Homo sapiens: one gene and its partner. The protein of the gene in region 2 purifies or fractionates together with the protein of the main gene of each other region. This does not show direct contact. Each region holds a gene or a part of one and is shown on either strand. Other genes may lie near its edges.

Region 1 (3,820 bases), about 70 Mb from region 2:
CAGAGTCAAAAAATTACTGGAAAAGCAGTATTCAAAACTCAGTTTTCCGAACTTCAGAGACCTTACTTTTACCATCTTACCATGCTGTCTTCTAAACAGGTATTTATACCTTTTTATATCTGGATTATCTTGAGCCTTTCCCTTTCCTAAAACTTCTAACAATAAGAAAAATACTGGCCAGCTGCAGTGGCTCACACCTATAATCTTCGCACTCTGGGAGGCCAAGGCAGGTGGATCACTTGAGGTCAGGAGCTTGAGACCAGCCTGGCCAAAATGGTGAAACTCCATCTCTACTAAAAATACAAAAATTAGCTGGGCGTGGTGGTGCATGCCTGTAATCCCACTACTGGGGTGGGTGAGGCCCGGAACTGCTTCAACCTGGGAGGTAGAGGTTGCAGTGAGCCGAGATTGGTCCCACCGCACTCCAGCCTGGGCAACAGAGTGAGACTCCAATTCAAAAAAAAAAAAAAAAAAAAAACCCACAAACAAAAAACTGATCAGTAGTCAGAATATCTCTTTTCACAGTATCATACACCTATACAGTACTTTATAATTTTTAAACACATTGCCTCATTTTAACTCTTATAACTGAGACATAGGTAGTAGTATTATAATCTTCATTTTTGGATGGATTTTTTTTTAAACAAATTAAAGCTCAGGAAAGGGAAATACTTGCCCATAATCATATAGTGTGTTAGGAGTAGAGGCGGATGTCCAACTTGGGTCGGACTCTAAAGCTCATGCTTTCTCCGTTATACCTCACTATCTCAGGATGTTAACTGCCCTATCACCCTTTCTTCAGAAAAGGGTCCAGGGGTATAATTTCTTGATAACTTACCTTGCATCTGGCCAATGGTCAGATCTTTATCCAATCTATCAACACCTAGAAAACAAGAGAATTCATTGTGAAACAGATTTTGCTGTTCACGTATTAAGTAAAAAGTGTTACAAAGTTTTAAATATGATGACATTCTCCATTCATGTTTATACCAATCCTAACTCCCAGAGCATACTCTCACCACCAGATAAAACTTTTCAGGTTGAGATTCCCCTATAATTACTATGTTAAACTGGTTCTGAAAACAAGGTTTTACTATTTTAATTCTCATAATAATCAGAATATCCTTATACCACTGCATCTAGCTCTAGACTAAGAAGGACTTGAGCTTGACCAAGTAGACAGGCCAGGCCAGAATTAGGTCATCCTTTATGCTTAGATGAATGCTTATGCTTAGTTAGGTTTAGAGACTGGGTGTGGGGAGGAGAAAAGGCATAGATGAATGAGGAAGGTACTCTACTTTGGATGTCACTACTCATTTGGTGAGAAGTTTTAATGAGGTCATATTGAGATGACAATATACCAACACTGCTATGGACTGAGTTGTGTCCCCCTAAAACTCATGTTGAAGCCCCAATTCCCAATGTGACTGTATTTGGAACTAGGGCCTATAAGGACGTAACCTCAGGTCATGAGGGCAGAGCTCTGACATGATAGGATGAACGTCCCTAATTAATATCCTTAAGAGAAGAGACACCAGAGAGCTCACATTCACTCTTTCTCGGCCATGTGAGGGCACAGAGAGAAGGCAAGCCAGGAAGACAGCCCTCACCACAACCTGACCATGCTGGCACCCTGATCTCAGACTTCCAGCCTCCAGAACTGTGAGAAAATAAATTTCTGTTGTTTAAGCCACTCAGTCTATGATATTTGGTTATGGCAGCCTGAGCTGACTAATATATGCACATATACACTTACCAGCCAAGAGCAGCAATTTAGGAATGGGACAACTAAGAAAGAGATTGGATAAGCCTCGGAACCAGCCGTCCCAGTATTTTTCTGTTTTTGCCAGTTCAATTCTCCAGGTGTATGGATGGTCTTTCTTGGTCTGGAGGAATAAGAGCAAGTTCTGAGTCTCCGAGGGCAACCCCTGGAGGAACAGGATTAAAAACTAGATCCCTGGGAAAAGGAAAGGGAAGGAAACTAGCACTTATTAAGGACCTACTAAGTCCTAGACATTTTAATATACATTCAATCCTTCCAACAGTCTTGTTGTATGGGTCACTGTTAATATTCATTTTAAGATAATTACAAGTTTACTTTTTATTGCTATTAGTTTCTGTGAATTTAGGAAACTTTCTTAAGATCACAAAGCTAGTAAGTGGTAGTGCCAAGATTAAGCCTTTCTTATACTTGGTTGGCAAAAGGATGTTTCATCAAAAGAATAACTACAAAGAACATACTGCAGTATGAAAAAATGCTTATAATATAAGCAAGAAACAGATTACAACATGTCATCTAAGTTAGGATTACTACTGGAAAAATGTGGTATAGTAAAGTACTAAAAAGGAAAACTGAAAATAGGTTGATTTGTCAGTAGAGCATTTTTTCTTATATTTTATGATAATGATATAATGTTCCTGCAATAGTAATTTTGAAAGGAAATATGAGACAAATATGACAAAATGTCAACATTTATTAAATCTTTATTGTAGATAAGCACAGAGTATGCAATCAAATATTGGCTGAAAAAATAAATAATTCTCTATATTTTTCTGTACCATTGAAATATTTGAAACATTATAATTGAAATAAATATACTGAATCAACCACAATATGAAAATCTAAAAGTGAACATGAGATAGTAACATATTATCTTAAAGATCACTGGATGCTTAAGATGTCCATACTACCCAAAGTAATCCACAGATTCAATATAATCTCTATCAAAATTCCCATGGCTTTTTTTTTTAGGAAATAAAAAAAATCACCTTAAAATTCATATGGAATCTCATAGACACTGACTAGCCAAAACAATTTTGAAGAAGAACAAAATTGGAGAACTCACACTCCCCAATTACAAAGCTGCAGTAATTGAAACAGCTTAGTACTGCCGTAAAGACAAATAGACCAGTGGAATAGAATAGAGAGCCCAAAAATAAACCTTCACATAAATAGTCAAATGATTTTTGACAAGACTGCCAAGACCACTCAATGGGGAAAGAACAGTCTCTTCAACAAACAGTACTGGGATAACCAAACAGATATGCATATTCCAAAGTGAAGCTGGGGCCTTATCCCATATCCAAAAATTAACTCAAATGGATTAAAGACCTAGTAAGACTAAGACTATAAAACTCCTAGAAGAAAACATGGAGGAAAAGCTGGACAGTAGACTTGGTAATGATTTCTTGGATATGACACCAAAAAGCAGTGAACAAAAGCAAAAATAGACAAATGGTACTATGTGTATGGAATGGGAGAAAATCTTTGCAAATCATATATCTTATAATGGATTAATATTCAGAATATATAAAGGACTCCTACAATTCAGCAACTAAAAACATCGAGTAACCTGATTAAAAAATGGTCAAAGGGCTTGAATAGACATTTCTCTAGAGGTGATACAGAAGTGGCCAATAAGCATATGAAACGATGCTTAACATCACTAATCAATAAATAAATGCACAGCAACACCACAATGAGATACCACCTCACCCCCATTAGGATGACTACTATCAAAAAAGAGAAAAATAAGTGTTGGTGAGGATGTGGAGAATTCGGAAGGAACCCTTGTGTACTGAGTTGTAAAATAGTTCAACCAATAAGAAAAACATCAAGGCAGTTCCTCAAAATATTAAAAACAGAACTACTGTATGATCCAGGAATCCCACTTCTGGGTACATATCCAAAGAATTGAAAACAGAATCTCAAAGAGGGATCTGCAAACCCATGTTCATAGCAGCACTATGGATAACAGCCAAGAGGTGGAAGCAACTCAAATGGCCACTGATGGATGAATGAATAAACGAAATGTGGTAT
Region 2 (3,820 bases):
CTGTAATCCCAGCTACTCAGGAGGCTTGAGGCAAGAGAATTGCTTGAACCCGGGAGGCAGAGGTTGCAGTGAGCCAAGATCGTGCCAAAAAAAAAAAAAAAAACAATAACAGTGCAAGGGAGTTGGGGGTTAGAGGGAGGTGATAGGGGAAGAGAAGGGATTGGAATGGGCAGGAGAGATCATGAGAGGAAGGAGGCAGATTGGAAAGGAAGCCAGGACTGAGGAGGTAAAATGAGGCCAGAAGATGGGAGATGTAACAAGTGGCTTTGGCCCAGACTCGGGGACTGACCTTGGAGGATCCATCCTCAGCTCTGATCTGGATCCTCAAGCTTTGTTTCTCCTACTGGCAGCCCCAGGCCCCACCACCTGTATCCACTCAGGGATCTGCCAGCCAGAAACCTGGATGGACTTCTGTCTCCCACAATCAGTCCACTAGGCCTTTCCTGGGGGCCCAGGGATAAAGGTTCTGTTGTGCTAGGGGCATGGAATTAGATATGGACTTGCCCTTAACATCTCAATGTTACAAGAATCAATCCTTAGACACAGACTGTCACAACACAGTGGTCTGGGGTTCCTATTATGATTAAAAAAAGAGTACAGTGACTGTGGGGCTCAGAGGAGGCACTTCACGCAGCTTGGACATTGGGGATCACTTTCTTCTTGGAGGAGGGGACATTGTTGCTCTGTGGTAAAGAAGGCTCTTTGTGAATGCCAGGCCGGCAACTTTTGATATTATCCAGAGGGCAATTTTTATCAAGAGCTTTGGAAAGATTTTAGGCAGGAAAGGGACATGATCAGATTTGTGCTTTACATATTTATTTATTTAGAGACAGGATCTCACTCTGTCTCCCAGGCGGGAGTACAGTGACCTGATCTTGGCTCATTGCAGCCTTGACCTCCTGGGCTCAGGTGATTCCTCGCCTCAGCCTCAGCCTTGGGTAGCTGGGACTACAGGTGCATGCCACCATGCCTGGCTAATTCTTATATTTTTTTTGTAGAGATGGGGTTTTGCCATGTTGTGTAGGCTGGAGATTTGTGCTTCAGAAGACCACTCTAGCTTCTGAGTGGAGAACAGCTTTAAGGTCAGGGGCAAGAGTAGGGTATAAGGAGGCTGGTGCAGTAGCTCATGCTCCTGGGGGAACCAGAGCCAAGATGCGGACTGTGAGCGTAGAGAGGAGGGATGGAGTCTAGAGAGGTGTAGAAAGTGGGATTGACAGCAAATGGAGTTTTTGTGCAGTTGGCATGGGGCGGGGGACAGTACGGTAGCTAGAGAAGGCATCTATAATGTGGGGGGACTTTTACCTGAGGCCAAAGGAATGAATCTTATGGTGAAATCTGAGGTGCCGTGCAAGGGGATTTTGGGGAACCCTGCTTTATACCATATGAGTTTCTGATCTACTGTCCTATCAGAAAGGGCTTATCCTCCCGTCTCTCAGTACTCTTAGCTCTGGGCACATGGGGAAGTTTGGGGTGAGCTGTGTACCCAGTTTCTCATAGCTCCTGATGTTGCTTGTTGCTGGTGCAGTCGATGAGTGGGGAACTTGTGTGCTGGAATGGGGCTGGCGGTAGGAGTACATGTACCTGATTGTGTGTATGTGTCTGTGTGTATATGTGCGTGTGTGTGTACATGATGGAAGAGACAGTCCCTGCTCTTAGAATCCCACCCCCATCCCTAATCTGAGAGAAGCTCATGAAGACAGGACCAGCAGCCACAATGCCCTAACTCTCTCTTCCTCCTGAGGCCTTCCCCAAACTCTGTATCATTTCTCCCCAGTACCTGTTCCCAACAGTGGTCAGGGTTCAGGGCCCTTGAATCCTTTAGGCTCTCCCAGTCAAGCTTTAGATGGTGGTCCTGTTTTCCTTAAAGTAGCTGAGACTGGGGAGTAGTTTTCAGATTGAATATTCCAGGAAGCAGAGGCAATGCTCTGACTAACTCAACTCAGAGTAACAGCAAGGCAGAAAAATCAAGTAAGGAGACTTGGAGGTTCCTGCGTCTCTCCCATAAGCAGACCTTCCCATGCTCTGTGGCCATGTAGCTCACAGCGTTTTTGCATTCTTTACAGGAAATTTTGTCTTCTGAAAGCCATCACTTATTGTACTTAACTGCATGCCAGATACTGCAGATGTTTTATACACGTTATATTTAGAATTCATATGGCTTGGCATGTTGGCTCACGCCTGTAATCCCAGCACTTTGGCAGGTGAATCACTTAAGGTCAGGAGTTCAAGACCAGCCTGGCCAACATGGTGAAACCCCATCTCTACTAAAAATACAAAAATTAGAGGCCAGGCGTCTGTAATCCCAGCTACTCGGGAGACTGAGGCAGGAGAATTGCTTGAACCTGGGAGGTGGAGTTTGCAATGAGTTGAGACCGCACCATTGCACTCCAGCCTAGGCAACAAGAGTGAAACTCCATCTCAAAAAAAAAAAGAAAAATTAGCTGCGTGTGGTGGCACCTCTAGTCCCAGCTACTCAGCAGGCTGAAGCACGAGAATCACTTGAACCTGGGAGGCGGAGGTTGCAATGAGCCAAGATTATGCCACTGTACTCCAGCCTGGGTGACAGAGCGAGACCCTGTCTCAAATAAATAAATAAATAAAGAGAATTCATAAACACCCTGCAAGGTAGGTGGTGTTATACCCATTTTACCAATGAGGAAATTGGAGCTCAGAGAGGTGAAGTGACTTGCTCAAGGTCACCCAGCTAATAAAGGCAGAGCTGGGATGCAGACTCAGCTTTGTGCAGTTCCTGAGCCTCTATGCTGCCCCTTCACATTACTCAGAGTGCATGTCTGAGCCTGGTCTCAAGCTATGATATCTCAAGCTATGGTATCTCAAGCTATGGCTTTGAGACCAGCATCTTCTCTCCCAGAGCTCTACATTTAGCTTCCTCTGACAGTGCAGAAGGGAATCCATCTCCTTTTTTGTGGAGGCTGTGAAGCCCCATGGCTAGTCTTGCCCCAGGCCTACCTGTGGGCTGCCCTATGAGCCGCCTGCAGCATTGCTCACCTTCTCAGCAGTCTGGCATCTCATTGAAAGAAAGGAATGATGGTCCTTAAGAACTCCACTTCCGAAGACTGTCCCTCCATAGTTAGAGCAAATTCATTCCCTTGCTGGGTTGCTGGGCTCTGGCACTGCGCTGGCCCTCGTTGGAGGTCTGCAGAAGTGCACAGAAAGTGTGGGCAATGGACTGGCCATTTCCACAGTTTTGGAAACTTTTAAAAATCCATATTCTTGCTGGGGGTGGTGGCTCACGCCTGTAATCCCAGCACTTTGGGAGGCCGAGGCAGGCAGATCACCAGAGGTCAGGAGTTCTGAGACGAGCCTGCCCAACATGGTGAAACCCCATCTCTACTAAAAATACAAAATTAGCTGGGCGTGGCAGCAGGCGCCTGTAATCCCAGTTACTTGGGAGGCTGAGGCAGGAGAATTGCTTGACCGCAGGAAGCGGAGGTTGCAGTGAGCCAAAATTGCGCCACTGCACTCCAACCTGAGCAACACAGCGAGACTCCATCTCAAAAAAAAAAAAATGCATATTCTGGCTTGGCGTGGTGGCTTATGCCTGTAATCCCAGCAGTTTGAGAGGCCGAGGGGGGTGGATTGTTTGAGTCCAGGAGTTTTAGACCAGCCTGGGCAACATGGCAAAACCCTGTTGCTACTAAAAAAAAAAAAAAATCCAAAAAATTAGCCAGGCATGGTGGTGGCTACTTGGGAGGCTAAGGTGGGAGAATCACCTGAGCCCAGAAAGTAGAGGCTGCAGTGAGCCGAGATCGGGCTATGGCACTCCAGCCTGGGCAACCGAAGTGAGACCCTGTCTCCA

The links.
Region 1: the proteins of PGAP2 (region 2) and PPME1 purify together in Homo sapiens (affinity purification with mass spectrometry; one large-scale study listed by BioGRID and IntAct). This does not show direct contact.

The regions. Positions count from the first base shown.
Region 1 is NC_000011.10:74,244,142-74,247,961, reverse strand, and holds part of PPME1 (protein phosphatase methylesterase 1), read right to left. Parts: exon of another isoform or gene 2,467-3,820; intron 1,929-2,466; coding exon of another isoform or gene 1,887-1,928; coding exon 1,757-1,886; intron 884-1,756; coding exon 839-883; intron 1-838. UniProt on the Homo sapiens protein: Demethylates proteins that have been reversibly carboxymethylated. Demethylates PPP2CB (in vitro) and PPP2CA. Binding to PPP2CA displaces the manganese ion and inactivates the enzyme.
Region 2 is NC_000011.10:3,818,241-3,822,060, forward strand, and holds part of PGAP2 (acyltransferase PGAP2), read left to right. Parts: intron 1-3,820.